Homo sapiens: one gene and its partner. The protein of the gene in region 2 binds, or shares a complex with, the protein of the main gene of each other region. Each region holds a gene or a part of one and is shown on either strand. Other genes may lie near its edges. The genes, in order: TPRKB and OSGEP.

Evidence for each region.
Region 1: OSGEP (region 2) and TPRKB share a complex: the UniProt entries of both Homo sapiens proteins name them as parts of the EKC/KEOPS complex.

What each region holds. Positions count from the first base shown.
Region 1 is NC_000002.12:73,729,146-73,745,890, forward strand, and holds TPRKB (EKC/KEOPS complex subunit TPRKB), read right to left. Parts: upstream 8,201-16,745; 5' UTR 8,157-8,200; intron 8,117-8,156; exon of another isoform or gene 8,071-8,116; intron 7,612-8,070; exon of another isoform or gene 7,472-7,611; intron 5,447-7,471; 5' UTR 5,425-5,446; coding exon 5,284-5,424; intron 3,560-5,283; exon of another isoform or gene 3,556-3,559; coding exon of another isoform or gene 3,439-3,555; intron 3,141-3,438; coding exon 3,018-3,140; intron 1,592-3,017; coding exon 1,415-1,591; intron 885-1,414; coding exon 798-884; 3' UTR 728-797; downstream 1-727. UniProt on the Homo sapiens protein: Component of the EKC/KEOPS complex that is required for the formation of a threonylcarbamoyl group on adenosine at position 37 (t(6)A37) in tRNAs that read codons beginning with adenine.
Region 2 is NC_000014.9:20,438,107-20,453,914, forward strand, and holds the end of OSGEP (tRNA N6-adenosine threonylcarbamoyltransferase), read right to left. Parts: intron 14,343-15,808; coding exon 14,223-14,342; intron 14,044-14,222; coding exon 13,868-14,043; intron 11,161-13,867; coding exon 11,065-11,160; intron 10,908-11,064; coding exon 10,858-10,907; intron 10,706-10,857; coding exon 10,627-10,705; intron 10,066-10,626; coding exon 10,000-10,065; intron 9,889-9,999; coding exon 9,798-9,888; intron 9,585-9,797; coding exon 9,509-9,584; intron 9,415-9,508; coding exon 9,316-9,414; intron 9,174-9,315; coding exon 9,134-9,173; 3' UTR 8,295-9,133; downstream 1-8,294. UniProt on the Homo sapiens protein: Component of the EKC/KEOPS complex that is required for the formation of a threonylcarbamoyl group on adenosine at position 37 (t(6)A37) in tRNAs that read codons beginning with adenine.

The DNA of each region.
Region 1 (16,745 bases), on a different chromosome or scaffold from region 2:
ATATAAAATCACCAAGGCAAAAAATTTAAAAACAGAAACAATAACCAGCTGGGCTCAGTGGCTCATGCCTGTAATTCCAGCGCTTTGGGAGGCGCAGCAGAAGCATCACTTGAGTCCAGGATTTTGAGACCAATCTGGGCAACATAGTGAGACCACATCTCTACAAAAAAAAAAAAAAAAATCACTAAGGCAAGAACCTAGTACACTGTAGGCATTCCATAAGTGTTTGCAATTTTTATTCTAATTATATAAAAATAAAATATATTTGAATAGAAACAGAACTCTAGAAGGCAATAACAAGTAATAGTAACTGATTATCTTTTAAAATACAACGAGGTAGGACTACAAGTGGTTTTTTTGTTTTTTTTTTTTTTGGTTTTTTTTTTTGAGACGGAGTCTCGCTCAGCTGCCCAGGCTGGAGTGCTATGGCACGATCTCAGCTCACTGCAACCTGTGCCTCCCAGGTTCATGCGATTCTCCTGTCTCAGCCTCCCGAATAGCTGGGATTACAGGCACCTGCCATCATGCCCAGCTAATTTTTGTATTTTAGTAGAGATGGGGTTTCACCATGTTAGCCAGGCTGGTCTTGAACTCCTGACCTCAGGTGATCCACCTGCCTTGGCCTCCCAAATTGCTGGGATTTCAGGCGTGAGCCACCGTGCCTGGCCTTTTTTTTTTTTTTTTAATACCATTCTGTGATTTAAACTTTTCTATAATGCACAATTAGTTTTATAGTCAGGAAAGGAAAATCAATGTTTTCTTTAATGCTGAGAATTTTTGTTAATATTTCTGACATTTCATAAAACATCTTTTGTTGACATTCTACAAATGATAGCATCCAATAATGTCCCAATACTTTCTTCTTGTGAAGAGAGTTTATATATCTGTAAAAATGAAAGACAAATTATGACTTGCTGATATCGTCATTCACTACTAATTGTCATTATACAAACATGTGTAAGTGAAATTATTCCTCATTCAATTATTGGGTTCATGGTATAACAAACAACAAATGTGATTAAAATATTCAAAGTAGAGGGCAATTCATTACTTGTATCCCCTTTAAATTGCTGCTATGGGAGTAACTCTCAAGAACATAAAAACCAAATTTCTATCCATTTTAAAAGCATACTAAATTTATTTTACATTTTAAATATACTATGTAAGTTTGATATTTAAAGGTATTCTCTTTCTTAATGTGGAGAATGGTTATGTCAGCTGAGTTTGTAATTATATTTTACATAAACCATCACACCTCCCAGTTCTTTGTATCTGTAATTTTTAAGTAATTTTTAAAATTAGATTAACTTTCTCAAAAGTTCAAAAAACAAGGAGCTCTGGTGATCAATAGGCAAACGGCATCAGCATTATTGCTCATCTATCACACTCTTTCTAAAAATATGGACTGGCAAACCTTTTTGACTTCTGTAATATTCATTATTTCAGGAAGATTTTTCAGAGAAACCTGATGACCTTCTACTTGAGATATTAGGTATTCTTGATTTATTTGTTTTTCTCCCTCTTCAATGTAAACAATTAGAATTGAAGTGTCATTTGCTGAGATACCAAATTTTTTCAAAGCCTCTGAAATCTAAGAGAAAAAAAATGAAAAAAAAAACACAAGATCATTAACCATTGTTTCCTACGTCTGAAACATTTCCTGATCTGCCTTCTTCCTTGGTCAGGCTCTTATTTTTCATGTCCTAACAGTTCTCACTGCCTACTTTTTCACTTTAATGATTCCTTTCCAACATCCATTGGCACTTCCTCAAAAGCACTCCCTGCTTAAAGGTACGCCTTGTTCCTATGGAATCAAGCCCAGCCTCTTGGCGCTGCACAAAAACACCTCCTCCCTCTGGTGCCAAGTGGCCCTCCAGCCAGGCGCTTCTGCCTTCTGGCCAGTCCAGCCTGCCTGGGGATCCAGTCACATTTCATGCCCTTCTGCCTGTGCTCAAGCTTTGTCCTCTGCTCGCATGTCCCTTCTCCTCATGGCTTGGCTGCTGAACACATGCTTCAGGGTCCACAGTTCTGATGCCACTCCCCACCACACCCTCCTCCCTCCAAAATGAATGGCTTCATTGCTGTACCCCTAGATTTGAATTCATTTTCCCATTATATCATTTATCTTAGGGCATTTTAACTTGTCTTGTTTATCTGCCTCTCCTCAGGAACATATTTGCCTCTTCTGCCCCTAGAACTGTAAATGGAACGGGGAAAAAGTTCAACAGATGTTTACTGAATTCAAGAGTTTTCTGAATTATGTCTAATGATCTCAAGGAAACCATAATTAGTAAATTTTATTCCAGGTACTGGGAATCTCTATTACCATGCTGAGATAACTGCATTTTATAAACTTGTCAATCATCTGTATTTTAACCTATGCTACAGGTTTCCTGTAGATGACATTAGTACCTGGTTGTTATTAACAGCAGCAGTAATACTAAAACTTCATCAGCAAAATTGCAGTCATTTTTTTCATGTGCTACATGTGTGATGTCTTTAGCTTGATAACTTTCATTGAAAAAGCATTACTATAAGTATTTCAAACCACAAACTCTACCTATGTACTGGGTGTGTGAGTGAGGCTGTGTTAAGGACTGTTATAGGTACAAGCAAGTTCCTGGTATATGAAAAAGACATGGATCCCACCCTCAAGGAGTTTACGGGAAGAGAGAATGATATGCAGGCTAGCACACAAAATATCCACGCCTAATGTTTTATCATTTAGATTTCTGTCAGCTTCTCAAGCAAAAATACTTGAGGGGTCTTCCTGACCCTATATGGTAAGAACAGATAAAATTAACCTCGCTTAATTTAGCTAAATTTTTGTTTACTCATATGTAAACTGTCTTAGTAAGAGGCAGGGTTAAACCTCAACTCTCTGTCCAGAGCTCTCTTCACTATTATTTGGGTTTATTACTAACCACTGGCTTGCAGGAATTTAGCCTCCAACCCAACACTGAGGAACACATATGTTATTATGACACGGTCAACAGAAATAGGAAAGTGCACATTACATTGTTATTTGGGGAAAGGTTGAAAATAATTTCAGTAGATAGAGTTCTTGTCTTCATTTTTCCCAGTTTGTAGAGGTGAACTGCTTTGTTTGCTGCCACAAGTATCTGAAATGGATCAACAATCTACCAAAGCAAGGAAAAAGAATTAATTACACATGGAGAATCTGCAGTGCCTGAAAACACATGGTAACTCATGGTTAACTCCAGTGTCAAGCTGTTTTACTTCATCACAATTCTTACGGTCTGTATTTTCAAAACTATTATCCCGGCTGGGCACGGTGGCTCACACCTGTAATCCTAGCACTTTGGGAGGCCAAGGTGGGTAGATCACCTGACGTCAGGGTTCAAGACCAGCCTGGCCAACACGGCGAAACCCTCTCTACTAAAAATACAAAAATTAGTCAGGCGTGGTGGCACGCACCTGTAATCCCAGCAACTCAGGAGGCTGAGGCAGGACAATTGCTTGAACCCGGGAGGCAGAGGTTGCCGTGAGCCAAGATCGCGCCATTGCACTCCAGCCTGGGCAACAAGAGTGAAACTGTCTCAAAAAAAAAAAAAACAAAAAACAACTATTATCCCAAGGGCCTGGGTAGTCAGGAAATCACAGAATTTTAAAGCTGCAAGGAACTTATGCAAATAGTAAAATTTTTTTAAATAACATTAATTGAGGGCTAATATTATGGGCATGATCATATTGCAAACATTTTACTTGTAATATTTTCTTTAATCCTCAAAACTACCCTATGAAATTGACACTATTATTAGTAGTAGTAGCAGTAGTAGTAGTATGTAATTGATGAGGAAATTGAGGCAAAGAATGTCTGGGTTTGAATCCCATCTCTGTCACCTATCACCTAGGAAACTTATGCAAGTTCATTAGCATTTTATTTGTTAGAGACCGATGAAACAGTATTCACTCCATAGGCTGTTGTGAAGATTAAGCAAGTTAGTATACGTAAAGCACTTGGAACAATGCTAGGAATGCAGTAAGCACTATATAAAGGTTGGTTATGTCTTGTTCAAAGGCCTAAGTAGTAGGTCTGGGATTAATTCCCGGTAACATGATCGCACTGCGTGTGCCCTGTTTTTTTGTTTTTTTTTTTTTTTGGAGACAGACAGAGTCTCTCGCTCCATTGCCCAGGCTGGAATGCAGTGGCTCAATCTCAATTCACTGTAACCTCCGCCTCCCAGGTTCAAATGATTCTTGTGCCTCAGCCTCCCGAGTAGCTGGGACTACCAGCACACACCACCACACCCAGCTACTTTTTGTATTTTTAGTAGAGACACGGTTTCACTATGTAGGCCAGGCTGGTCTCAAACTCCGGGCCTCAAGCAATCCACCCACCTTGGCCTCTGTGTGTACTCTTAACCACTACACTATTCCTCCTCTACAGACTGTCTTGTTAGGAACCCCCATTTTAAAGATGAGAAGCTGGAGATCCAGGCATTTCCCATATTAGACCCAGACCACAACCTTTCCTATTTCCTAGGGCAGGACCTGGCACTTCTGCCTCTATTCACTGTTATAGTCAAAGTTGGCTGCATCTGACTTGGACAAGAATTTTTTCCCTAACCGTGACAGATTTTTAGGCTACCCTATAACATCACAAATATTAATGTATACTTAAATGCCCTGTATGGCTCATTCATTCTTTTTTTTTTTTTTTTTTTTTGAGGCGGATTCTTGGTCTGTTGCCCAGGCTGGAGTGCAGTGGCACAATCTCGGCTCACTGCAACCTCTGCCTCCCAGGCTCAAGCGATTCTCCTGCCTCAGTCTCCTGAGTACAGGTGCCCACCACCATGCTCAGCTAATTTTTGTATTTTTAGTAGAGACAGGGTTTCACCATATTGGCCAGGCTGGTCTCAAACTCCTGACCTCATGATCTGCCTGCCTCGGCCTCCCAAAGGGCTGGGATTACAGGCGTGAGCTACCATGCCTGGCCATTTTTTTTTTCCAGACAGAGTTTTGCTCGTCGCCCAGGCTGGAGTGCAATGGCGCAATCTTGGCTCACTGCAACCTCTGCCTCCAGGGTTCAAATGATTTTCCTGCCTCAGCCTCCCGAGTAGCTGGGATTATAGGCGCCCGCCACCACGCCCAGCTAATTTTTGTATTTTTAGTTGAGACAGGGTTTCACCATGTTGGCCAGGCTGGTCTTCAACTCCTGACCTCAGATGATCCACCCGCCTCGGCCTCCTAAAGTGCTGGCATTACAGGCGTGAGCCACCGCACCCAGCAGGCTCATTCATTCTTAAAATTTATATTTACCACTGTAGGATTTATCAGTGATCCATCGATGGTGCCTTCCATGGCCTTTCTTCTCAAGTCTCCCGCATTTTTTACATCTTTAAATAACAGAAGGGTTACCCTGCATTCGGGAAATAGGTCCAGCTGATGTGTTAACTGCATTTCACAGATAAGCAGGATTCTACTGCACACAAAATGAAAAGACCAAAAGATTTCATTTAAAAGTTAACATCAGAACTCATTTCTTAATAAATATTCAAAAACTTTGAAAGTAACTTGATAAAAGTGTTAAACTAGAAAAATCCATCGCCAAAGCCCATTTGGCATCCTCATGAGATGTTGTCTTCCTAACCCTTCTGAGTTGTTCTGTTGTCATCCCCAGGGAAACGCCAAGGGGCCCAGCTGGTTGCTGTTTGTTCAGATGAGGCAGGCTCAGGTGCATGGTTGAAGGGCTGCTTCCCCAGCAGACAAGTAGGAGCAGAATGTCAGGAATTTTTTAAACCAGAGGTTGCTTACGGTATTAATGAAGTCTTACTCTATCTTAGTCTTTTTAACTTCCTGATCTCATCATTTTATTTATATTTTAGGAAGGCCTAGACATAAATATTAAGGAAGAAAATAATTTTAAAGAATAAAGTAGGCTGGGTGCAGTGGCTCATGCCTGTAATCTCAGCACTCTGGGAGGCCGAGGCGAGCAGATCACCTGAGGTTGGGAGTTCGAGACCAGCCTGACCAACATGGAGAAACCCCGTCTCTACTAAAAATGCCAAAAAAATTAGCCAGGCATGGTGGCGCATGCCTGTAATCCCAGCTACTCAGGAGGCTGAGGCAGAAGAATCGCTTGAACCTGGGAGGCAGAGGTTGCAGTGAGCCGAGATCATACCATTGCACCCCAGCCTGGGCAACAAGAGTGAAACTCCGTCTCAAAAAAAAAAAAGAATAGGGGGAAGGGATAGCATTAGGAGATATACCTAATGTAAACGATGAGTTAATGGGTGCAGCATACAAACATGGCACATGTATACAGATGTAACAAACCTGCACGTTGTGCACATGTACCCTAGAACTTAAAGTATAAAAATAAAAAAAAAGGATAAAGTATCCCACTTGACCCAAAGATATTCATTCCACGCATGGAAATTAAGCAGAGAGGGTACAATTATTAAATAATCAATGTCGCTCCTTTCTTGGACATAAGCTTAACAAGAAAAGGATAGGTTATTATATATAAAGACATAAAAGAAACATAAAAGACAACTTGAATAACCAGAAAGACATGACCATATCTTTGAATGGAAAAACTATGTATTGCAAAAATTTCTTTAAAACAATTTCTATCAAATTCTTAATAAAATATTTTGGTGGGGCAATTTGAGACTCATTTTATCCTTTTACCTGGCAGATTATATTTCTAGAACTCTTTCTGATGGAAGTCATTAGGAATCCAATAATTATATAAGATGTTCCTCTCATTATTTTAACAGTAAAAAGTTGCAAATAACCTATCTAGCTAATGATGGGATTAGTTGTTATTTAACAACCATTAAAACATGTGGTCTTGACGGTGTGTAAAAACGGCAATAAATAACATTAAGTAAGTAAAAACATCTGAATGGAAAACAAAACACAAACTGGCCAAAATGTGGGTTTTTTAAAAGGCTTTTAAACAAATATTAAAAAGAAAATACACCAAAAAGTTAATGTTATCTCTTATTTAGAATTAATTTGACTTTTTCTGTTACAAACAGAAAAAAATATATTTGTGAACGATATCCTGGCACACAGTTCAATCATTAGTCATGCTAAGGTGGAAAAAATGGATACAGAAAGACATAATCAGTAGGATCCCAATTATATAAAAAGATACACATATTTTTTTAAAATACATGAAAGAAACACTAAAATATGACCATCTTGGGTAGTGAGGTTATGAGGTGATTTTTATTGTCCTTTATATAAAAGAAAATATTTTGTTATGTATGTTCTGAATTTTCTACAGTAAGCACACAAAACATGAGTACACATAATAAGAAAGGAAAAAAACGTGCTTTTTAACACTGAGTGGGGGGAAGAACCCTTAGAAAACTTCAAAATAGTTTGTTCTTGTTTAGCGTAATTTACTCACTCAGGTCAGAAACTTGGAATCATCGTTGAGACCCAACCTGTCACTCAAATCCTATATCTAATCCGTAAAGTCCTGAATTTTCACCTGCTAAATATACTTTTGATTCGTCCACTTCTCTCCCATACGCTAGGTCACATCGCTCATCTACAGCAGTAGCCTTCTGAGTGGTTTCTCACAATTCCTGCCCTCCTATAATCCAGTCGTCACCAGCAGTTACAGTGATCCTTTCAAAATGTACATCAGATCTTGTCATTCTGCTGCTCTTATGATAAAGCCCCAACTTTGTGTCACGGTGTTCCACACTCTACGATCTGGTCCCTGCCTCTCCTCTTCTGCTACCGCCGCAATGGCCTTCTCTAAGCTCAAGTCACCAACCTTTCTCCCCGATTCTGCCCTATCGGACAGGTAGTTCCCTCTCTCCTTTCATCTCCGCCTGACGCACTCCTCCCTCCCTTCAACTCCATTTGGAGTCCATTTACTACAGCGCCCAGAACCCCGGCACTACGGCTCTTTTTAGTCTGAGGACTAGCTCCTTTTTGGGCCCAATCACAACTCTGAAGAATCCTGCGCCTATCCGCTGCATGTCTCCTCACTAAACTATTTCTTGAGGGGACAGCCTGACTCTATCATTCTCGTGCTGCATTCCCAGGGGCTGGCCTCGTTGCCGCTTGAGAAATACCAACCGCAGCCGTTGTCCCAAAGACACTACTAAAACTGCCCGGACCCTCCCGCTCCCGAGCCTGCCCGTTAGAGCGCAAGGAAAACTCACCATCCGGCCCCCAGTGCGTCTCGGAAGAGCTCCCGCTCCGAAACAAAGCTCACAACTTCCGGAAGCGATGGCCAATCCCCGTCTTCTTCGAGCCAGTTTCCGGATAGGCCGGCTCGGGGTGGCCATCTGTTTCCGGGTCCTGGTAGGAGGGGTGCTTCCGCCCATGGTCCCGCCCATTCTTCCGCCTCCCCAACCTGGGTCCCGTCAACGGACGCGAAGGAGAACAGGGGCTGTATATCACTTCCGGCGAAGGAAATGGAAGAATCTATGGGCTGGGACCGGAAGCTGGGGTCTGGTTTTGAGTCTCGGCTTTGTCTTAACCTGTGTTGGGCGTTGCACCGGGCGACCTCAGTTTCTTCCTGTACAAGGAAAAGTACTGACCAAAATGAGTTCTACATACATTTCCGCTGCTGGAGATTTCTTTGGTTTTTGAGACAGAGTCTTGCTCTGTTACTCAGGCTGGAGTGCTGTGGTGCAATCTCGGCTCACTGCAACCTCCGCGTCCCGGTTCAAGCCATTCTCCTGCCTCAGCCTCCCGAGCAGCTGGGACTACAGGCACCCGCCACCACGCCCCGCTAATTTTTTGTATTTTTAGTAGAGACGGGGTTTCACCGTGTTAGCTAGGATGGTCTGGATCACCTGACCTCGTGATCCACCCGCCTTGGCCTCCCAAGGAGCTGGGATTAGTTCTTTTTCTGGGCCATGTCTCCTGTGACACTTTGGACTTTTGAGTTTAATGCTGGAACAAGTTAAAATTTTGGTAGGTGATTGGGAAGGCATGATTATGTTTTGCAATGTCAGAAGGACATGAGATTTGGGGGTCCAGGGATGGATTGAATATATGTCCCTGCCAAATCTCATGTTGAATTGTCCCCATTTTTGGAGGTGGGACCTGATGGGAGGTGTTTGGGTCATGGAAGTGGATCTCTCATGGCTTGGTGTCTTTGCAATAGTGAGTGAGTGCCAGGAAGATGTGGTTATTTAGAAGTGTGTGGCACCCTCCAACACAGTCTCTTGGTCCAGTTCTCACCATGTGATGTGCCTGCTCTCTCTTCTCCTTCTGCCAATAGTAAAAGCTCCCTGGGGCCTCCTCAGAGGCCAAACAGATGGTGGTACTATGCTTCCTGTACAGCCTGCAGAAACATGAGCCAATTTAACCTCGTTTCTATATAAATTACCCAGTCTCAGGTATTTCTTTGTGGCAATGCAACAGCCTAATTGCAGGGGGCAGGGGCAGGGGGAAGAGGTGGGGAGGCATGACACACTGGGCTAAAACATGAAGAACATTCGGCCAGGTGCGGTGGCTCACGCCTGTAATCCCAACACTTTGGGAGGCCGAGGCAGGCAGATCACCTGAAGTCGGGAGTTCGAGACCAGCTTGACCAACGTGGAGAAACCCCGTCTCTACTAAAAAATAAAAAATTAGCCAGGCATGGTGGCTCATGCCTGTAATGCCAGCTACTCAAGAGACTGAGGCAGGAGAATCACGTGATCTGGGGAGGCAGAGGTTGCCATGAGCTGAGATCGCGCCATTGCACTCCAGCCTGGGCAACAAGAGTGAAACTCCCTCTCAAAAAAAAATAAATAAATAAAAATTAAAATTAAAAAAAATATATATATATATATATACATATATATATGAAGGACATTCTATTTCTGGGAGACACTGGAACAGGGCCCTGGCTGGTCTGGTTAGTCTCTCTCTATCACAGGATGCTACATTCCCAGCACATTCTACAGTTATCCTAGAGAACCACAAGTGAGAAAGGAGAGAGAACTAAATTGGTCCAAGGCCACCTGGAGAACTGTCCTGCAGTCTATGCCCTTAACCCAGATTATACCCTTTAGCAAAGCTAGTCCGTTTCATATGCCCACCAACCTCCTAGTATCTGGAGGCGGAAGTTTGTCTTATCAGATCGATGTAACACCTTCACAGACACAATGTCAGTACAACATTGTTGAGCCATAGCCAGAATACATTTTACTAGGCCCAGGAGGACTACATCACAAACAGGTTGATCAGGTCTGTCTGGAGCATCAACCTAGTCCAGGATCCAGTGATCCAGGTAAGAACATAATAGGTCAAAGGTGCCAGCCCACCAAGATCTTATTAGTTGTCATGATGTTTTGCCACCTTAGGCCAATTAAGTCTACCTCCCTCCCATGTGGCAGATGTTAGATCCTCACTCAGTAAGCCAGGGCTCAGGTTCTGTTGATATTCACTGTGCCACTATAATACTGGTAGAGTTTACTACTGGCAGGACGAGAAGGTTGCTGTAGCCTGTGACATAATGGGGTCTGGGATGACAGATCCAGCACTTTCCTATGGTAGCCACAGCTTGGGAGAGCCTAACAAACGCGTTATGCTTCTAGGCCTCTGCAGTCACGTCCTTGTGGAAAAAGCAGACTGACAGGTTAGTGCCCTGCCCCTTACACTTCCTGCATCCTCGGGTATTCCCTACCTATGTGATAGAGGTTGAGCTGAGTGTAGTGTCCCAGTCTGACTGCTGCAGTCCCGAGAGTACCCATTCCGCTTGTTGCATGACCCAGGCCTTTTGGCTTCAGTCGTCCAGTCCGGGAAGGTTTGTCTTGTACAAACTCGACATGTCTGATAAGGTTACCTACCTGAATGGAAGGATCAGGTGTTCCTGGTGCCACTAAGCCTAGCACCCTGATACTCCTTGGTCCTGTCCTGTATCCCTGTGGATTTCATAGAAGAGAGGCACCCGGGGGACGTATCACCTCTAGATCAGAGTCAGAGGGGCCTGTCGGGTGCTCTGGCAGCTTGAACCACCGGCCACCTACAGGATGTGCACTCTAAATGGAAAAAGAAAAGACAATGGTTGGGAACACTGAGATTGGAATTTCACAGGTGCAGCCTCATCAGGCAGTCACCTGGTCCACCTCTATCCACATCAAGCTCAGCGTTTTTCAAGATGTGTGCAGTGCTGTGTTTCCCTTGATTGGAGAACAGTGCTTAGTGTCCACACTGCCCTAGTCAGGTTGAGGTGCCACCCCACTAACAGGCTGTCCTGATGTCCTTTATTCAGTTGCTTTGTGAGTTGACTGGTCCATCATTCAATGGCTCCATTGGCCTGTGGATGACAGAGTGCATGGAAAACCCACTGTATTGCATGAGTGTGCCCACTGTCATGTTGCTTGGGCAGTGAGGATTTTCCTTGGTCAGAGTGAAGTCCCATGGGGTATCCAAAAACATAAGTCCTCTCAAGGGCAGCTGTGGTAGTCAGAGCATCCACATGAGTGGCATATAGAGTCCCTTCCAACAGCAAGCTGTTGCCATAGCCCTTGTCCCCACACATGGAATCTTTTAATAGTCCAATCACTGCTGCCATTCCCCTGACCAGATGGCTAGGCTGTTGGCAATGGCCCATGAGTCAGTAAAAATGTGGCAAGATATGGTGGTAGGTGGGAGGGGATGTGCCCCACTGTTATGGCTCAAATCCTTAGCTGTTAGGGGTCATAGCCCCTCTGGTGGCAGTGACATTCTGTGCCACAAGCCACCAAAATGTCAATGCCTATAAAGCACTCAGTGGTGGGAACCATGGTCACTGACACCTGAAATGGCCCAAAGGCCTCCACCCACAAGCAGATAAGCACCACAAGCAGATAAACACTATGTGTCACCGAGTTCATCCCCAAACTTCCTGGTGTCACCAGCTTAATTTTTCCCCTAAAGGAACCTGGAAATTCTGTCATGTGGCCTTCAGTATCCAAGAACTCGAAAGAAATCAGAATTTCCATCTTTCCCCATTTTATTTATTTATTTTTTTTTTGAGACAGGATCTCTCTCCATTGTCCATGTTGGAGTGCAGCCTCAACCTCCCAGGTTCAGACAATCCTCCAGCCTCAGCCTCCCACATAGCTGGGATTACAGAAGCACACCACCACACCTAATTATTTTTAAATTTTCTGTAGAGACGAGGTCTCACTTTGTTGCTTTGGCTGGTCTCTAAGTCTTGGGCTCAAGGGATCCTCCTGCCTTGGCCCCACAAAGTACTGGAATTATAGGTATGAGCCACTGCACCTGGCCCCATTTTATCTTAATAGGAGTATAGAGCCATTGGCCTCTGGTGGGGATCCAGAGACCTTGGGCCCCATTCCTACCCGTGCCATACAGCCCAAGACATTTGGGTTTGCAATGTCCCTTTATCAAATATATTCATCAACCAGGATGCATGTGACTTCCTTGGCCTTTCTCCATGTCTAAGACTGTGGTCCTTTAGACTTGAGTCTCCCTTTCTGTGACGGGCCACGTTGTGCATGTGGGTTCCTCTCAGATGCTTCAGGGACCATGTGAGTACCTCATCCCTCTTCTTTCTCTTAAGTGCCTTAGGGTATGTTTGGGTCCCCAATCATCAGCCCTGGAAATGAGCAATCACATAAGTGGCTAACAACCAAGGGATCCTGTGTGGCATTTCAGCTCCACCTTACTTTCTCTCTGCTTCCACCCATTCAGCCAGCTCAGTCACATCCACAGGGTGTGTTTGCACGTGACCTAATGTCTCACGTATCACCCCTCCTTTCCCATAAAATGTCCAGTTGCAAGTCCAGCCTCTGCACCCACAGGTTGACATCACCACCTCCTTTCACCAGGAAAACATGGTTCTGTTAGACTGAACCCTGTTTGTTGTGTCAATTTTGTGAAGCAGGCTCATTGTGCACTGGTTATCAACTTGCCTGAGTCCAATGAGATGGTAAGATGGAATGCCCACACACAAGTTACATGAAGTGGGTTTATTACTTACAGATTGGCCCTGAGGCACAACAGAAGCCCGGAATTCATTGTGAGCCAATCTCCCAAGGCTCAAGAAAGCTACCGAGGGTGGATGGATTCTCACAAGTGGGGCATGTGTCCCACTTGCACTGCAGCTGAGGGACACTAGAAAGCATCCCACACTGGATTTAATACCCTGGGGACCACATGACACGCTGGGCAAAAGTGTTGATGGACATCTTGTTTCTCAGAGGCAGACAGGAACAGAGAGAGCCTGTGAGCTGTTCTTGTCAGTCCCTCTTTATCGCAGGATGTTGCATTCCCAGCACATTCTACAGTTATTGTTGAGAACACACGTGAGAAAGAGGGAAGAACTGGGCGAGTCTAAGGTGACCTGGAGAATTGTCCTGCAGCTTGTTCTTGAATGTTCATATCAACTTTACTCATAATAGCCAAAAACTGGAAATAACCAATGCCCAACAATACATTGATAAACACATTGTGGCAAATTCATACAGTGAGATACCACTCAGTAATGAACAGGAATGAACTGCAGATACTTCCAACAATACTTGCAACATGGATGAGTCTTTAGAATGTGCTCAGCAAAATGACAATCTAAAATTAATTACTAGGCTGGGAACGGTGGCTCAAGCCTGTAATCCCAGCACTTTGGGAGGCTGAGGCAGGAAGATCACCTGAGGTCAGGAGTTCGAGACCAGCCTGTCCAACATGGTGAAACCCTGTCTCTACCAAAAAGTACAAAAATTAGCCGGGTGTGGTAGCAAGCATCGGTAATCCCAGCTACTCGGGAGGCTGAGACAGGAGAATCGCTTCAACCTGGGAGGCAGAGGTTGCAGTGAGCCAAGATTGTGCCACTGCACTCCAGCCTTGGCGACAGAGGAAGATTCTGTCTCAAAAATAAATAAATAAAATAAAATAAATTACCATATGATTTCATTTCTACAAAATGCTAGAGATTACAGATTTATTATGGAGTGACTGAAAGCAAATCAGTGGTTGCTTGGGATAGGGAAGTGGGAGACACTGACTGGAAAGGACCCAAAGGGAATCTTTAGGGTGAAGCCAATGTTCTATATCTTGATGTGGTGTCAGTTACAAGGAAGTATGAATTTGTTACAATTCATCAAATTAGGTATACTTTAGAAGAGTATATTATATATAATATATATTTAATATATTTTAAAAAATATATATATATAATTTTTTTTTTTCTGAAACAGAGTCTTGCTTTATCACCCAGGCTGGAGTGCGGTGGCACGATCTTGGCTCACTGCAACCTCCGCCTCCCAGGTTCAAGCGATTTTCCTGCCTCAGCCTCCCGAGTAGCTGGGATTACAGGTGCGCCACCACGCCAGGCTAATTTTTGTATTTTTAGTAGAGATGGGGCTTCACCATGCTGGCAGGCTGGTCTCGAACTCCTGACCTTGTGATCCGCCCATCTTGGCCTCCCAAAGTGCTGGGATTACAGGCATGAGCCACCATGCCCAGCCTAGAAGAGCATATTTTATAAACTACAAATTATGCCTCAATAAAGTTGATTCGAAAACAGACATAAAAATTGTTGTCTCATATCAAGCAGAGTCCCATGGAATAAAAAAATTGTCTTGGCCGGGCATGGTGGCTCATGCCTGTAATCCCAGCACTTTGGGAGGCCCAGGCAGGTGGATCACCTGAGGTCAGGAGTTCAAGATCAGCCTGGCTAACATGGTGAAACCCCATCTCTACTAAAAATACAAAATTAGCTGGGCATGGTGGCGCACGCCTGTAATCCCAGCTACTCGGGAGGCTAAGGCAGGAGAATCGCTTGAAACCAGCAGGCAGAGGTTGCAGTGAGCCAGAATTGCACCCTGCACCCCAGCCTGGGTGACAGAGTAAGACTCCATCTCCAAAAAAAAAAAAAAAAAAGTTGTCTCAGTTCATAGCAGCTTGTTTCTAACTATTAAAAGCTGGAAACAACCCACAACCCAAATGTTCGAGTGAATGGATAAACAAAGTGTCACACATCCATACAATGACTGCAACTCAGCAATAAAAAGAAGTCAGCTATTGCTATATACAGCAACATGGATGAATCTCAAAATAATTATGCCAAATCAAAGAAGCCAGACATAAAAAGAGTGCATACTATATGATTCCGTTTATGTAAAACTACTCTATGGTGACAGCAGATCAGTGGTCGCTTGAGTAGGGGTTCTAGGATGCAAAGGGAGGATTACAAAGGAGTGTGGGGGAACTGTGGAGTAATAGATGTGTTCTACCTTGATTATGGTAATGGCTTCATGGATGTGTATATGTCATGTGAATCTAATTGTATGCTTATAAAAATATACAGCATATTGCATGTCAATTATCTCTCTAACGCTGTTTAAGAAACATGAGACACTACATCTTTTTGTTGGAACAGCTAAAATTAGAAAAAACTAACAACACTAAGTATTGGTGAGGATGTGAGCAACTGGAGCTCTCATAGCTTATTCACGGGGATGCTGTGTAATACAGACATTTTGCAAAAGTTTGGCAGTTCCTTATAAAATTAAATATACACTTACCCCACAACAGCAATCCCAGTACAAGGGAAATAAAAACAATTCACCCAAAAATCTCTATGCAAATGTTTATGGCAGCTTTGTTCAAAATTCGAATATTGGTAAATAACCCAAATATCCTTCAACTAGTAGATGGAAAACAAATTGTGGTATATCCACAGCATACTCAGCAACAAAAGGGAATGAACTGTTGATCTACTCAGCAACATGGAGGAAGCTCAAAAGCATTATGCTAAATGAAAGAAGCCACATTTGAAAGGCTACATACTCTGTTATTCCATTTATACAACATTCTAGAAAAAGCAAAACTATAGGGACAGAAAATAGGTCAGCATTTGCCAAAGTCTGGGGTTGGTGAGAATGGATTGCTACAAAATGCCATGAGGGAATTTTAGGGGATGATGGAATGGTTGTATATTTTGATTGTGGTGGTGGTGGTGATGGTTATAAAACTACGCATTTGTCAAAATTTGTAGAACTGTACACTAAAAGAGGTGAATTTTACTATTTGACTATTTTTTAAGTCATCTCAGAGGTAAAAATGATCCCTTATGACTTGCAAGGGTTATGTACCATAAAATTAGTTCAAAAGATCTAATTTGATAAGGTGTTAGATGAGAGCTTTCAAAACAATATCAACTTTATTCTTCTCTGCAATATATAGACTTGTATAAATATGCATAACTGTTACCATGTGTTAAAATGAATCTAACCTTGGAAATGTTATCTGAACAAATGGGTCAGGTAAGATACCCAGACTCCAAACACAATCCCCATGTCTTGTGAAAATAACTTCGAAAATGAAACTTGTAATTCTTGATCAATTGTTATGTTGGATGTAACTGACATTTCTATATTCTTAAAAGGTATAAATATTTGTAGGACTTCAATGTCAAATCAGTGAGAGATGTGGTACTTCCAGCTGTCATACACATGTCTGAATGATTAAACACTTATGACTGTCAGATTTTTAAACAAATATCTGGGTGTCTTAACCTAGGCCCTCTAGAAAGCAGAGCCCAAGGCAAGGATTAAAGCACTGGTATTTTATTTATTATTTATTTTTATTATACTTTAAGTTCTAGGGTACACGTGCACAATGTGCAGGTTTGTTACATATGTAACAACCCAAATGTCCATCAATGATAGACTGGATTAAGAAAATGTGGCACATATACACCACGGAATACTATGCAGCCATAAAAATTGATGAGTTCATGTCCTTTGTAGGGACATGGATGAAGCTGGAAACCATCATTCTAAGCAAACTATCACAAGGACAGA
Region 2 (15,808 bases):
TCATGTAGCTCTGGGACTGCCCTCCAGGTCCATTAGCTGTCCTCCTGGTTGCAGACGCGCTGGCTAGCAAGGGGTCTTGGCATTTCAGTTATGTATGTGCTGTCCCAGCCAAGAAATAGTGCCACGTCCACCTCGAGAGGAAACCCACACCCAGCCACACTCCCAAGATGATCTGGAGAATTCTGGGGCCAAAATCGGCAAGGCCCCAGTGCACTTCAGCTGGGTCATAGGAGTCATGGTAATGGATTGGCGCTCATGGTTCCCTAAGTCTGGGGATCTAGGCAGGCGAGAACTCTTTGCTCCAGGGGAGTTTTTGGGAGGTACCTCTGAAGAAGGGGGCAAGGGGTGGGACTCACACTGGAGACTGCAACCCCTCCCTTACCACCCCGCTCCCCAGATTTGCTGTATGCTCAATATCTGGGGCATCATTCTCTACCTGCAGCTGCCTTGGATCGCTGCTCAGGCAGGCACAGGTATGAGCTCAGAGCTCTCCTGGGCAGTAGGAAGGGATGTGCATGTATGAATAAATTCCCATCCTCACCCCAGGGCTCACATGGCTCATCATCCTGTTCTTGGCCTCAGTCATACTGTCACTGGATTGTCTATCTCAGCCATCTCCAGCAACGGCAAAATCAAGGCTGGTGAGTCTGTAGTGACTCCCGCTCCTCCCTTCATGTTTCCCCATCCCTCATATCTGTTAATGAATTGTATGGTGTTCTTCGATGATCACATTTGGTCATTTCCTCACTCCCCCAACCCCTGCCACACAAACATTTTCATTTCCCCTTTTGGTACTGGTGGTACCTAGATAGCCCTACTGCTTTGGGATGGGGTTTTCTTCCCATGAAGAAATGTGTATCCTCAATCTCATTTCTAGGCTCCTGTATGATTCAACGTGCTTCCGAAAATAGGACTGACATGGGTGTGCAGAATGGGAGCCGCCTGGGCGCAAAGTGCCAGTATGGCTGGGATTTCAGCAGTTGTCGAGAGCAAGGGTCCTGCCTCTGTGGGCTCTCTAATCACTATGAGGTGAGTGAACCAGAGCGGAAGTGTAGAGAGAGAAACCTTGCCCATTGCCTGGCATAGCATAGATGTTTAAGTTGATTAATTTGGGGCAAAACCTTCAAAGATGCAGATAAATTTTAATAAGTCTGGGAAAACTAGGTGAAAATACGGGTGGAATGCATTACTTTGGAAAGGCATTGATTTTTGCCTCTGTCTGCCCTTTTCCTCAGACCATGAACATGGTGTCTGCCTTTAGCCCTCTGATGTCTGCTGGAATCTTGAGAGCCATTCTGTTCTGTACCCTTTCCTGCTTTGTTTCAGCCCCTAATATCTTCCAGGCTAGTTGAGATCTTAGCAAGAGGCTTGCAAGAGAAAGGAAAGAATGTTAGTAGACACGGTCATCCCAAGTGTATAATTTTTGAGGAGGGGCAAAAGACGGCTCAGTTCTCAGCAACTGGGAGTTAGAAGGTAACTTTGGGAGATGGAGATGACTGTGGCTGGCTAATGTTTAAAGAGATAATCCAAGCCCACATAGCAACATTCAAAGTCTGCCTGTAAATCAAGGGAAAGTATGGGGAAGGTGTCACTCTTTTTTTTTTTTTGAGACACAGTCTCACTTTGTCACCCAGGCTGGAGTGCAATGGCATGGTCTCGGCTCACTGCAACCTCCGCCTCCCAGGTTCAAGTGATTCTCTCGCCTCAGCCTCCCAAGTACAGGCACGTGCCACCACATCCAGTTAATTTTTATATTTTTAGTAGAGATGGGGTTTCACTATGTTGGCCAGGTTGTTCTCGAACTCCTGACCTTGTGATTCACCCGCCTTAGCCTTCCAAAGTGCTGGGATTACAGGCGTGAGCCCCCAGGCCTGGCCCGGTGTCACTCATCTATCTACCTCCCCACTCTCAGTTTTTCCCATCCCTCATTCCCAGGGATCTTACCACCCCCTACTCCCTCTACTCCTATCCTTTCTGCCTCTGACCCCTAAACTCCCTTGACTTCTGTCTATGCTTCCCACTCTCCTGCCTCTTTAGAGGGAGAGGGCTCTCATTCTCCTACTTCCTGGGACCCTCCCCTATTGATCACCAAGACCTCTTGCAGCAGCTGTGCCAGGATAAACCATACACAATCACTGGCTTTTTTGGGGGGAAAGGCCATGGCAAGAACCACGAGCCTCTGTGGGGCTATCTGCTCACCTTCCTCACTGCTGTAGGTTTCATCCTTATCGGTGACTACTCCCCACCCCACCCTCCACACTGGGCTCTATTAATCACCATTCCTCTCAGGCCCTTCCCAGCCCTACCTCTGGCTTCTAGGAGCTGATCCTAAAACCTCTTTTCTATCTCTCTTTTCCTGAAAGTGGACGAAAAATGTCTCCTAACCTTGCACTGCTAGGGGTGGTATGTGTGTGGGGGTGGAGTGAGGAGTAAGAAGGGAATAGAGAGAATGGAGAAAACCATAAAATGATGTCCTGGACTTCTAGACCTGCATCTTATGACACTAGTGTGGAGACTCACTCCTGACCTTTCATCTCCCCCAAAGCCGAGCTGAGTATCATTGCCCCCACCATCGCCAACTTCCTCCTCTGTTCCTGTGCCCTCAACTTTGGCTGTCTCTACGCCTCCCTTACCTGGTTGTCTGGTTAGTGTGGGCAGGTGTTCAGGTAAGCTCTAGGGCTGGAAAGACCTGGGGAGTTGGGAGAGCATCCTTGCGGTACATGAGTGGGTGGTGCTGGGGCTAAGACAAGGGCTTACATTTGCTGTCCCCTGCAGGCTGGCGCCTTTCCTTCTGCAGGTAAAGTCCCTGGGTCTCTCTCCTGGGCTCTCTGCTCTGCCTGCTCATCACATTCCTCCTCACATGGCGGGCAACACTGATTACTGTGTTGCTTACCCTTCTGCTGTTATATGATCTACAAAACCTGGTGAGTGAGTAGGCGGGTGTGCAGGGAGTCAGGAAGTGAGTTACAACAGGAGGCTGGCCCCTAGAAGAAGCCCAGAACTACGAACAGTGTTTCCTCTTCTACCTCACCATTGATGCACCACCCCTTTCTCTGCACAGTTGTGAACTGGGGCTCTTCAGCCCAGGCAGACACCTACCAAATGGCGCTGTCCTACTCAGTGAGCCTCACCAATGTGTAAGATCACATTAAGAACTTCCAGTCAGGAAGTCTGTAGATGAGAGATTGAAAACGGTGGCCTATGGACGGAATGTTGCCTGGAAATGAGTTTTTTGATTGCACAGCATTTACAATTTTTAAAATAAACTACCAACGTTTAAGATCCAGGCATCTGCTAATCCTGGGCCTCCAACCCACATGACACAGTTAGCTGGGGCTGAGTAGCTCCTGTCCCATGGGACAAGGCAGGTGCTCTCCAGTTTGCCACAGTTCCCACTTGGTCCACTTTATTCTTTAATACTACATGACTGGTTCTTGCAAACTTTTGGCTTTTTTGGGAAAGGCCATGGCAAGAACCATGAACCTCTGCAGGGTTATCTGCTCAGACACAGAAGGAAACTAGCTTCCTGAAATCTGGGCGGGGTAGTGGAGAAAAAGGAAGCCTTCTTGTCACCTCTCATCCAACATACCATATCCCCTTCTTTCCTCATTGCTTCTCCTTTCAGGTCTCATGTTTGAACCAACTGAAGTCCAATGTGCTGGTCTTGGGATATAAGCAAAATTGGGAGAAAGGGCCTGTATCTGCCATGGAGTACTACATAGGCATTCTAGTGCGAATGTGAGATAGAGAAGGGTAAGATGGACATAGAAATGGTCAGGAACTAGAAAGAAGAGGAAATATAATCGTGGTGAAGCCCTTGTTCCCAACAGCTGCCCAGCAGTGCCTGTGTCCCCAGGAAAGAGACCCCCACCCCTTCATCTCTTCCTCCTATATCTCTTTTTCTCTCCTCTCCATAAAGTGATGACTTTGACTACAACTATGGCATAGGCCTCATAAGGATGCCAGGAGGGTTAAGCCCGGCTACTCAACACCAAGCTCAAGGTGAGTGAAAAGAGGTGGGCCTAAGAGAAGGATGTGGTGTGGGAGGTATAGAAATTGGCTCTCAAAGACAGTCTGGGAGGCAAATGAACTCATCTAGAGTTACCAAGACCTAAGACTGAATAGAATTGGGTACCAGGATGCGAGAGAAATGAATTTTGCTTGAGCTTTAGTTCTCCTGAAATTTTCAGGGTGGGGGAAAACTTTAAAGGTATCTTCTAAATTCAGGTGGGAGAAATTTGGATCAAAAGATACAACATAGCAGGGTAAGCTGGAGTGTGGTCAGGAAGGGCTATGGCCCAATTCTAGAGAAGGGTTTCTGGCACTACCCCAATTCTAATAATATTACACATCTTATCAGTTAAATTTTGGGCATCCTTAGCAAAAAGATAACATTATTTTGTGTTATACCCCCACTTTTCCCAGTACACCCAGCATATTTGGATGTCATAGGGATGGATACTTAGCAGGCAGGAGACCAATTCTAAAACATGTCCTGTTTTTAGGAATAACAGAGTTGTAGAGCGGGTTAGAGAAGCAGACACCAAGGAAAATAAAAAGGAAATGCGGTTAGTCAATGCGGAGAGAAGCCACATGACGTTTCTCTAGGATAGCAATAATTCTCATAGGGGAGGAGAGGTATTATACTGAATTAGGAGCAACTGCTCAGCTGGAAAGGAGTTTGTCTCATTCTTTTCTTCTCTTTTCTCGGGCAGCATCCTTATTCCAGCAGCCTCAATGTTCCAATCCAAGCAAGGCCGGAGGGCAGTGGACGTGTACTGGCTCGGTGATGATGAAGGTAGGGACTCCATGGCTCCCCAGGAAGTCCCAAGTTCTCCAAGTTCCAGGGAGAATAGGAGAGGGAAGATAGTGACATATAAACCAGAAAGGACTAGAAAATGAACTCTGCATTTACCAAGTACCCAATACTCTCCTCCCACCTCAGAGGACAACTGTGGTGTTTAAAGGCCAACAGAAAAGCCCGTGTTGCTGGAGCAGCGCAAACAAGGAATTGAGTAGCAGATCAAAGTGGTAGGCAGGGAAGGGCAGAGTGGATCACAGAGGGTCTCACAGGCCTTTAAATAGACTGGCCAGCCGCCCTGTCCGGGAGGGAGGTGGGGGGCGCCTCTGCCTGGCCGCCCCTTCTGGGAAGTGAGGAGCCCCTCTGCCCGGCCGCCACCCGGTCTGGGAGGTGTACCCAACAGCTCATTGAGAACGGGCCATGATGACGATGGCGGTTTTGTCAAATAGAAAAGTGGGAAATGTGGGGAAAAGATAGAGAAATCGGATTGTTGCTGTGTCTGTGTAGAAAGAAGTAGACATGGGAGACTCCATTTTGTTCTGTACTAAGAAAAATTCTTCTGCCTTGGGATGCTGTTAATCTATAACCTTACCCCCAACCCCGTGCTCTCTGAAACATGTGCTGTGTCCACTCAGGGTTAAATGGATTAAGGGCGGTGCAAGATGTGTTTTGTTAAACAGATGCTTGAAGGCAGCATGCTGGTTAAGAGTCATCACCACTCCCTAATCTCAAGTACCCAGGGGCACAAACACTGCGGAAGGCGGCAGGGCCCTCTGCCTAGGAAAACCAGAGACCTTTGTTCACATGTTTATCTGCTGACCTTCCCTCCACTATTGTCCTATGACCCTGCCAAATCCCCCTCTCCGAGAAACACCCAAGAATGATCAATAAATACTAAAAAAAAATAAATAAAAAGACTCTGGTTTTTCTTTTGATGTAAGAAAGCACTGAAGGTTTTGAGCAGAAGAGTAACATGATCTGGCTTCCACGCTAACACTATTCACTCTGGCTGCTATGTGGAGAATTGACTCTAAGTTGGCAATGGGGAAAGGAGAAGGAGCAGCTACTGCAATAATCTTGAAGACACATAATTCTGGCTTGATCTACAGTGGCAGCAGTGGAAGTGAGGAGAAATGGAATTCTGGATGTATTTTGAAGGTAGAGCCAAGAGGATTTGATTAATTGGAGAAGAAAGAAAACTGACAAAGATACTTTGACATGAACAACTAGAATGGAGTTGTCGTTGACAGAAATAAGAAAGACTACAGGACTAAGTTGGGGAAAGAATAAGTGCAATTTTGAATATGTTAAATTTGAGACGCCTATTAAGCATCCAAGTGGAGGTGCCAATGAGCAGCTAGGTATTTGGGATAGAAGTCCAGGTTGGAACTATAACTGGGAGTAACCCCCATCAAAATGATTTTAATGTATACAACTAGATGAAGTCACTACAGGTGTATGTGTAAAGAGAGCAGTCTGAGGACTAAACTCTGTGGAGATGAGGAGAAACTAGCAAAGGAGATTAAGAAAGGGCAGTCAGTAAGCTAGGAGGCAGACCAGAGAATGCATCCTAAAGCCAAGTAAGGAAACTTTTCAAAGAGGGAGTGTCAAATGCTGCTGATAGCTTCTGAGGATGAAGAATACGCCATTAGATTTAGCTATGTGCAGGTCATCAGTGACTGTGATAAGAATAGTTTTGGTGGAGATTTAATAGGGAACTGGTGGAGAGAAATTGAAGACAAGTCTTTCTAAGTTTTGCTGTAAAGTGGAACAGAAAAATGGGAAGCAGCTGGAAGGGCAAATGGGGACAAGCAGGCATTATTTGTAAAATGAGGAAAACAGTGGCATATTTGTGGACGGCAGGATTCAGGAGAGAAGGAAATACTGACTCTCCAGGAAAAGAGGGAGAATTATCCCTTTTTTTGAGAAAGAGTCTTGCTCTGTCACTCAGGCTGGCATGCAGTGGCACAATCTTGGCTCACTGCAACCTCCGCCTCCTGGGTTCAAGCGATTCTCGTGCCCAAGTAGTTGGGATTACAGGCATGCAACATCATGCCAGCTGATTTTTTGTATTTTTAGTAGAGGGGTTTCACCATTGCTGGTCAGGCTGGTCTTGAACTCCTGGCCTCAAGTGATCCACCCGCCTTGGCCTCCCAGTGCTGGGATTACAGGGGTGAGCCACTGCAACCAGCCCTGACTTCTAATCAGTAAAATATCCTCCTATCGACGGTGACAATCCAGTGTCCTCTGAGAAGCAAAATCAGCTCTGGTTGAGAACCACTGGTTTATGGTAACAGGAGGAAGGCAGAGTACATGGGTACAGATACTGGAAGATGGTTAGTTTCAGGGGCAAAAGCTTGTAAATGTATACTGATTGTTTCTATTTTCTTACTGAAATAGGAACTAAGGTAAGAGTCAGAATAGGGGGAGATGTTAAGAGATTTGAGGGGTCAGAAGGTATGAAACAGTCACTAGAAAAGAGGGCAAGTGAAAGGACTAGAGAGATGGCATATTTCTGGGTGGCATAAAGGACCCATTTTAGTGTCATGGTCGTAAGTTTGAAGTAAGATCAGTCAGCATGGCTATTTTTTACTAGCCCTTTCAGCTGCATGGGTCTAAAGTAGGTGATGAGTTGAATATGACAAAAGCAAAAGAGGGGAAGGGAAATGAGGTGGATTATGGGAATTTAGCTGAAGGAGGGAAATAAAAATACGTGGGGGATAAAATCTGCAGAAAGGAAGTATGATCAATGGACCGTAGGTCCTGGTGAAGGGATGAACTGTTGGATTTAGCATACTAAAGAAAATGAACTGGAAGAACAGGAGGTGGTGGTAGTCGAGAGTGGGACGTCTGAAACTGAGATGTGGAGGATCTGCAGCTCCAGAACATGACCAAGGAAATAAGTGGCTGAAGCGGGTGTTAGTATGATCTACCTGAATACTGAAATAAGATTTATGACAAACGTGGTGTTCGTATGGTAGTTTCTTTCAAAGCAGAAGGGTACTAGGGATGAGGGATAATGGTCTGGAAACAGTATGAGGACACGTGCACCACCTCCAGGCCCAGTGGGACACTGGGTGTGGAAGGGAAAATGCCACCACTACTGAGGTGGTAGGAGAAGCAGAGTCCTCATAAGAAACCAAGTCTGAAGAGCATAAATGTGAAGGGAACGTTCAGAGAAGAGGTTGAGGACACAGAGAATTTGACAAATGACTGGCCATCAGTTCCAGAGGGCACAGTGGAAGAGCTTCTAGAGTTGGAAAAGGTAGGTAGATGGAGACAAAACAGAGTGGAGATACATGGTTATTAAGTGTAAAAGATGAGATGACTCAGTAGTTTAGGACTAATTGTGATGATTGATATCAACATCAATAAGATTAAGGGTATGAGATTCGTTCTGTTGTTTGTGGTACGGAGGGATGTGCATCTGCGGGCATTCCTCAAGCCTGCCGATGGATGTGCATGTAGGAGAAAGTATACGGAGTAGAGGCAGTTTTAGAGTTACAAGTTAGACCAATCTCCAGGCTGTTTGTTTGTTTGTTTTTAAGAGACAAGGTTTTGTTCTGTCACTCAGGCTGGAATGCAGTGGCTCAATCACAGCTCACTGCAACCTCAAACTCCTGGGCTCAAGCTATCTTCCCGCCTCAGCCTCCCTTGGAGCTGGGACTACAGATGTGCGCCACCATGCCCAGATAATTTTTACATTTTTCAAATAGATGGTGTCTTGCTATTTGCCCAGGCTGGGCTCAAACTCCTGGGCTCAAGGGATCCTCCTGACTTGGCCTCCCACAGCACTGGGATAACAGGTGTGAGCCTCCAGGCTATTTTGAGAGAAGTCTTGCACACCTACTTCAAAGAATTTAAATGAGAGAATGAATGTAAAGCAGTTAGCACGGGACCCGATGCTATAATAATAGTTATGATACTACTATTGTTGCCAGGCACAATGGCATCCTTACTCAGGAGGCTGAGGTGGTAAGACTGCTTGAGCCCAGTTCGAGACCAGCCTGGGAAACACAGCAAGATTCCGTTTCTTAAAAAAAAAAAAAAAGATACCTCATTCTTGGTTCCACAGCAGCAAGCTCCAACAAGAATTTATCCAGCACCAAATCTACATTGGTCCTGAACAACACAATCCAATCACCAACATACAAAACCAAAAAACCAAAAATATTTTATTGCTGAGTCATCCTGGGGTTCCATAAAGGACCCCAAGCCTTGCTTGGAGTCTATAGCTTTGCTAGGACTCCCATGACATCAGGATAGAGATTGAGGCACGGGGTCCTTTGGGTTCCGATTAAGGAACTATCTACTCTGATTCTGTTGATCTTATTAGTCCCTCCAGGTCACCTCTACTTCATCTGTCCGATACCTGTGGAAAAACAGAAGAAACATGGTGGAGAGCGAGCCCTTAACATCCTTCATTCTTCTCTGCCCTCATGTTCCTGGACTCTTCCCTGCTGTTTTTGTCTATGTCCCAATAATCTACCCTCACCAAGAGGTGAATCACTCACCTCTGTGTAACCCCAGAATCACTGAGTGGGGTCCTGTGTCCAGCCCGAAACATCTCCCAGCCAGCCTGGGCTATCATCGCTCCATTGTCAATACAGAATCTGGGATGCAAGAGAGATGAAAATTGGGATCTAAGGGTGGAAAATCACTATAACAGGAGAAGTAAAAAAGAAACCAAAGGGAAAGTGTCTTTACCTCTCATCTGTAGCAAAAAGCCGGGCTCCACGTTCCTGGCACATTGTTGCCATCATCTCCTGTAGCCTCACATTACCTACAAAGAGGCAGGGAACAGGATTAGCTTAGTTTTAGCCATCTCTTCATGGTCCAGCAGAACACGTCATGTGCACTCACTTAGAACAATGACATAGGGGATTAGGGGCAAGGATTGGGAAGCCTACTCCAAACGCTTAATGATTTAGAGTACCAGGAGGAAGACGCATAGTGTTAAGAATAGGAAAGAGGAACACTTTTCAATAATACATACACCCCACTCCTCCCACAATGAGGGCCTCCTGGGAGCCACAATGTGCCATGGCTCGCTCTGTGATCTCTACCAGCATTGCAAACACAGTTTCCTGTCAGGGACAGATAAGGAGAAAATATTAGAGGGGCATCCCAGATTAGTTCTGCTCTACAATATAAAACCTTCAGCCCCAACTTTCTGTCCCAGTTTTTTACTGCATTACCTGCAGGGAGAAACACAGATCCTCAGGAGTACACTCGCCTGTGGCCAGCATCCGATGGGCTACATCCTACAATTAAAGGGAAAAACAAAAGAATCAACAAATCATGGTTTTGGGATTACACGAGAGCAAAAATTAATGCATTCGGAGGGTCATCATGTTTCACCACAATTCAAGTTACCAGCACATCCTGTACCACATTCCCTTCACTGGCATCATGGCATAGAATGAGCAGCTTTCATTTAAGATGCAATCATTACTTTTTGAATACTTGTCCTGACATCTCTCACCCCTTACTTATCCTGCTTAATTTTTCACCTGTACTCATCATCATCTGGCACTTCATTATTTTCCTCTTTCTTATCTCCCCCGCCCCCCATTTAGAATCTAAGCTCCATGTAGACAGGGATTTTTGTTTTGCTCCATGCTGCATCTCTACTATCTAGAACAGCATGTGGCACACAGAGATATTCAATGAATACCTTCTAAATGAATTTACCCAGCACATGATATGGACCAGTACTGTGCTACATGAATATACTGAGCTATACGAAATATAATCGTAAGTAAAACAGATATGCTTCATTTAAAAAGCATGAAAGTGCCCGTCTCATCACCTCTCACACTCACCTCAATGAAAGACAGGATCCCTGAGAATGAGACGTCCATCCCCTTTACAGTGTATGGCAGCTCAACTAGCTTCTTGCCTCTATGTGGGAATAAGCGTACGAGGCACTAAGCCTACAGTCAGCTGGCTTCTCACCCTCCAAAGCCCGTCCCAAATTTTGTTAATATATACCGTATATGGGGAAATCCCTGAAGCCCCAGCAGCCAGCCTGCTTCCACCTTATGTCCCCTTACCGCTTTGCCATCTGTTCAATGTTGTATCCTGGACTTGGGTCGTTAGAAATCTAGCAGAAGAAAAAAATAAGGAAGGAGGGAATGGAAGAGGATGAAATCAGATATGCAGGAAGCATAAGAAGCTCATTTACTATTTCCTCCCTCCACCTCCATGGCTTCCCAAAAATTCACCCACATTTTATGTTCTCTGCAGCCCCACTGGCTTACCTTCAGCACTCGAGCAAAACGATCCAGACAATTACCCACTGCAATATCGATGGTTTCCCCAAAGATACGGTAACGATGTTCCGAGTATGCAATCACCTAAGGGTGATGAGGAAGTCCATGAAACCCCAAGTCTGTAAAGAGGATTATTTGGCTTTGGGAGAAAAACATAGCAGAGGATCAACATGACCACCAGGGCTTCCAATAAGAAGTGGAAGAAAGGTGTTTCCCAAATGGTGAATGGGTAGTTTTTACAGCTCTGATTTGAGAAGAAATCTGTATACCCTGAGGATTCCAGGAACAGATTCCTAGACAGTGTAGGTTCAGGCAGAAATAAATTGTCATTTCAAATACATTGGTTTTCCGGCTTAGAAGTTCCTAATATATCCCTTAAATGCAGTCTTGATAGTAGGTAACCGGCTTTTCTGCTTGGAGGCAGAGAACATGAATCCTTCTAAATTATGACACAGTGGCAGTGGTAATTTTTTTTTGAGACAGGGTCTCGCTCTGTCTCCCAGGCTGGAGTGGAGTGGTGTGATCATAGCTCACTGTAGCCTCCACCTCCTAGGCTCAAAGGATCCTCCCACCTCAGCTTCCTGAGTAGCTGGGCTACCATGTGTGGCTTATTTTTATATTTTTGTAGAGATGGGGGTCTCACTATGTTGCCCAGCCTGGTCTCAAACTCCTGGTCTCAAGCAATCTACCTGCCTCAGCCTCTCAAAGTGCTGGGATTATAGGTGTGAACCACCGTATGCAGCTGGGCAGTGGTATTTAGAACCAAGAAGCAGAGCTGAAGAACTCAAAAATCTCATATGGAGTCAGACTAATGGCCCAGCCAAGTCAGCAATGGCAATTCACTTAAGGCCATTTTTCTTTTCTTTTTTTTTTTTTTCTGAGACAGAGTCTTGTTCTGTCGCCTAGGCTGGAGTGCAATGGCGTGATCTCAGCTCACTGCAACCTCTGCCTCCCAGGTTCAAGCAATTCTCCTGCCTCAGCCTCCCAAGCAGCTGGAATTACAGGCACCCACCACCACTTTTTTGTATTAAGGCCGTTCTTCATATGTGACCAACTTTTAGCACAGAGAATATCTGTCCCTTACTGACACATATTCTGCAGACTTATAACACCGAGGGCTTCCTACGAACCTTAAGAAGTCCCTTTCCCTTCCCAGTGCTGTTAGGGATTTCTTCCCTTTCTGATACAGATCTTAATCTGCTGTCAAAAAGACAGTAACAAAGGCGAAGGAAAAATCCTGCCTTTCTGCTTCTGCTATCCACTCCTCTCCACCTAATCACCCTCCCTGTTTCTTACACCTAAGCAAACATTAAAAGAGAAGAGGAAGACAAAACCGTCACTGCTCCTTTCATCAACTCTTGTAGCCTCCATTATACTTTCCACAACCCAAGTCTCTGACCTTGTATGTCATCCTTCAGGCCTCAACCAACTACTTGCCCTCTACCTGCTGAAGTTTCTGCATCATTTTCATGGGAAACATGTGCCTCATCTTCTCGACACAACCCTTTCATGAGCTGGGGACAATGCTGAACTATTTCTAATGATAATCAAGTGTTCTGTTGGAAAAGAATCCAATCCCAACCTTAAAAAGGTCATATAAGGTAACCCAAACAACTTTAGCTTCACCTATAAATTTAAAATACCTTCTGGCCGGGCATGGTGGCTCACGCCTGTAATCCCAGCACTTAGGGAGGCCGAGGCAGGTGGATCACCTGAGGTCAGGAGTTCAAGACCAGCCTGACCAACAGGGTGAAATCCCGTCTCTACTAAAAACACAAAAAATTAGCCAGGTATGGTGGCGGGTGCCTGTAATCCCAGCTACTCGGGAGTAGAGAAGAATAGTTTGGACCCGGGAGGCAGAGGTTGCAATGAGCCAAGGTTGCATCATTGCACTCCAACCTGGACAATAAGAGCGAAACTCCATCTCAAATAAATAAATAAATAAATAAGATAAAATAAAATACCTTCTATAATTTACAAAGTATTTTTTAAAGTTATTTATATTTCTAAACTCTTAGAATAACAAAGTCTACATAATCATTCCCAGTAATATAAAAACAAAACATGTACTTGCCCCAAAATAATAAATCAGGTAGTGTCCTTTAGTTGTTTTTTTTTGTTTTTTGTTTGTTTGTTTGTTTGAGACGGAGTTTTGCTCTTGTTGCCCAGGCTGGAATGCAATGGTGCGATCTCGGTTCACCGCAACTTCCGCCTCCTGGGTTCAAGTGATTCTCCTGCCCAGCCTCCGGAGTTGCTAGGATTACAGGCACCTGCCACCACATCAAATTAATTTTTGTTATTTTTAGTACAGATGGGGTTTTGCCACGTTGGCCAGGCTGGGCTCAAACTCCTGACCTCAGATGATCCACCCGCCTCGACCTCCCAAAGTGCTGGAATTACAGGCATGAGTTGCCATACCCAGCAACTGTTAGTTTCAATTGCTAAGATTTATAGAAAAAATAAGCTTCAAAATAATGCAAGAGCTTTCAGATATTCATTATTTTGAAGATTTCAATCCTTTTCAATCCCATTCATTCCTTTCCTGAAGTAGAAATTCCTAATCTTTATAATCAGATATAAAGTCTGATAATGATAAGCCATCTAATGTTCTGATCATGCTGCCAAAATTTGCAATGTTACAAACTCTGTTGGGGGTTTTCTGGTCTACAGTATTTTAGGTTCAGATAAGTCCATCTTTGTTCCTGACATTCCCATGACTCAGATAGAACAAAGAAAATACTGGTTCAGTGCCTCAGAAATTGAGATGGAGTGGGTAGAGCCCTCTAAATACCTGCGTATTTCCTCCACTCACATACAACACGGTTGGGCTGGTGGCTCCAGTGATGAGGCGGCCCATCTCAATGTGGCCTATACAGTGGTTCACACCCACCAATGGCTTATTCCACAGTTGGGCCACAGTACGGGCCACAACAGCCACAGAAACCAGTGGGGCACCCATGCCAGGGCCTAGGGAGATAGAAATGGAAGTTATAATCCTAGAGATTGGAAAAAAACAATAGTGGGGGACATAAGGGATGTGAGGTGGGGTAGGGGTAGTGATGGTGGCAGAGGTAAGGTGTTGGCTATTTTGACCTAGCCAGGTTGCAGGTATATTCCTCCATCGTTGACCACTCTCCCAGCCATACCCTTGGTGTATGCAATGCAGTCGATATCCTGGGAGGTTAATCCAGACTCTGTTAGTGCCTCCTGCAGCAGGTCTAGGATAACAGCTCGGTGATGCCTGGCTGTATCACCTGGAAGGAATCCTAGAAAATGAACATAGGTCAGAGATCACAGGGATTTTCTGTAGCAAAGGTAGGTAGGAAGTTAAAGAAAGCAACAGGAGTTTTAGTGATGTAGTAAGAGTCCTTTCACTTTCCCCAAGCATCCTATCTTCCACATTTTCACATCTACTCTTTCCGGCTTCTATATAGGCTATTCAACTTTCAGAAATGCTCTTCTTCTTACCCTACTCAGCCTTCAGGTCTCAATGCAAGTAGTATCTACCTCATACCCTTTCGTGATCTTTTTTTTTTTTTTTTCTTTTGAGACAGTCTCAGCTCTGTCACCCAGGCTGGAGTGCAGTGGCACGATCTCGGCTCACTGCAACCTCCACCTCCTGAGTTCAAGAGATTCTTCTGCCTCAGCCTCCTGAGTAGCTGGGACTACAGGCGACACCACCACGCTCAGCTAACTTTTGTATTTTTAGTAGAGACGGGGTTTCACCATATTGGCCAGGCTGGTCTCGAACTCCTGACCTCGTGATCCGTCTGCCTCGGCCTCCCAAAGTGCTGGGATTACAGGCCTGAGCCACCGTGCCTGGCCTTTGGTGATCTTCTTTCTCTGTGACCCTACAGAACTCTATGCATGATGATGTCATTTATTTAACATAACAATTACAGCATTATAATTTTCTGTGGTTTGCTCAGCTTAATCATGAATATCTCAAAGCATTGAGTATTTTATTTATCTTTGTATTCCCAGTGCCCAAGTGCCCAGAGGAGTGAATGCTAAACATACATATATATTTCTAGTGAGTATCTGTCACAACATCACCTGTTCAGGGAGGCTTTTCAGATACATGCAAGTCAGCTGCCCTCTCCTATGTATGCAAGTGTTTGAGGGGAGAGTAGCAAGATATAATAGCTTATTTAAAATATCAATTAAAAGTTGTAATGTGTTTTGTACTTTTTTTTTTTTTGAGACAGAGTTTCACTCTTGATGCCCAGGCTGGAGTGCAATGGCACCATCTCGGCTCACTGCAACCTCTGTCTCCCGGGTTCACGCAATTCTCCTGCCTCAGCCTCCCAAGTAGCTGGGTTTACAGGCATGCGCCACCACGCCCAGTTAATTTTTTGTATTTTTTAGTGGAAACATGGTTTCTCCATGTTGGTCAGGCTGGTCTCGAACCCCGACCTCAGGTGATCTGCCTGCCTTGGCCTCCCAAAGTGCTGGGATTACAGGCGTGAGCCACCACGCCCAGCCGTGTTTGGTACTTTCATCTAATCTTCAAGACCTAATGATACAGGTATTATTCCCATTTTAAAAACAAAGACCAGGCCCGAGCGGTGGCTCATGCCTGTAATTTCCACACTTTGGGAGGCTGGGGTGGGCGGATCATCTGAGGTCAGGAGTTCGAGACCAGCTTGGCCTGGTGGAAACCCCGACTCTACTAAAAATACAAAATTTAGCTGGATGTGGTGGCGCACACCTATAGTCCTAGCTACTTGGG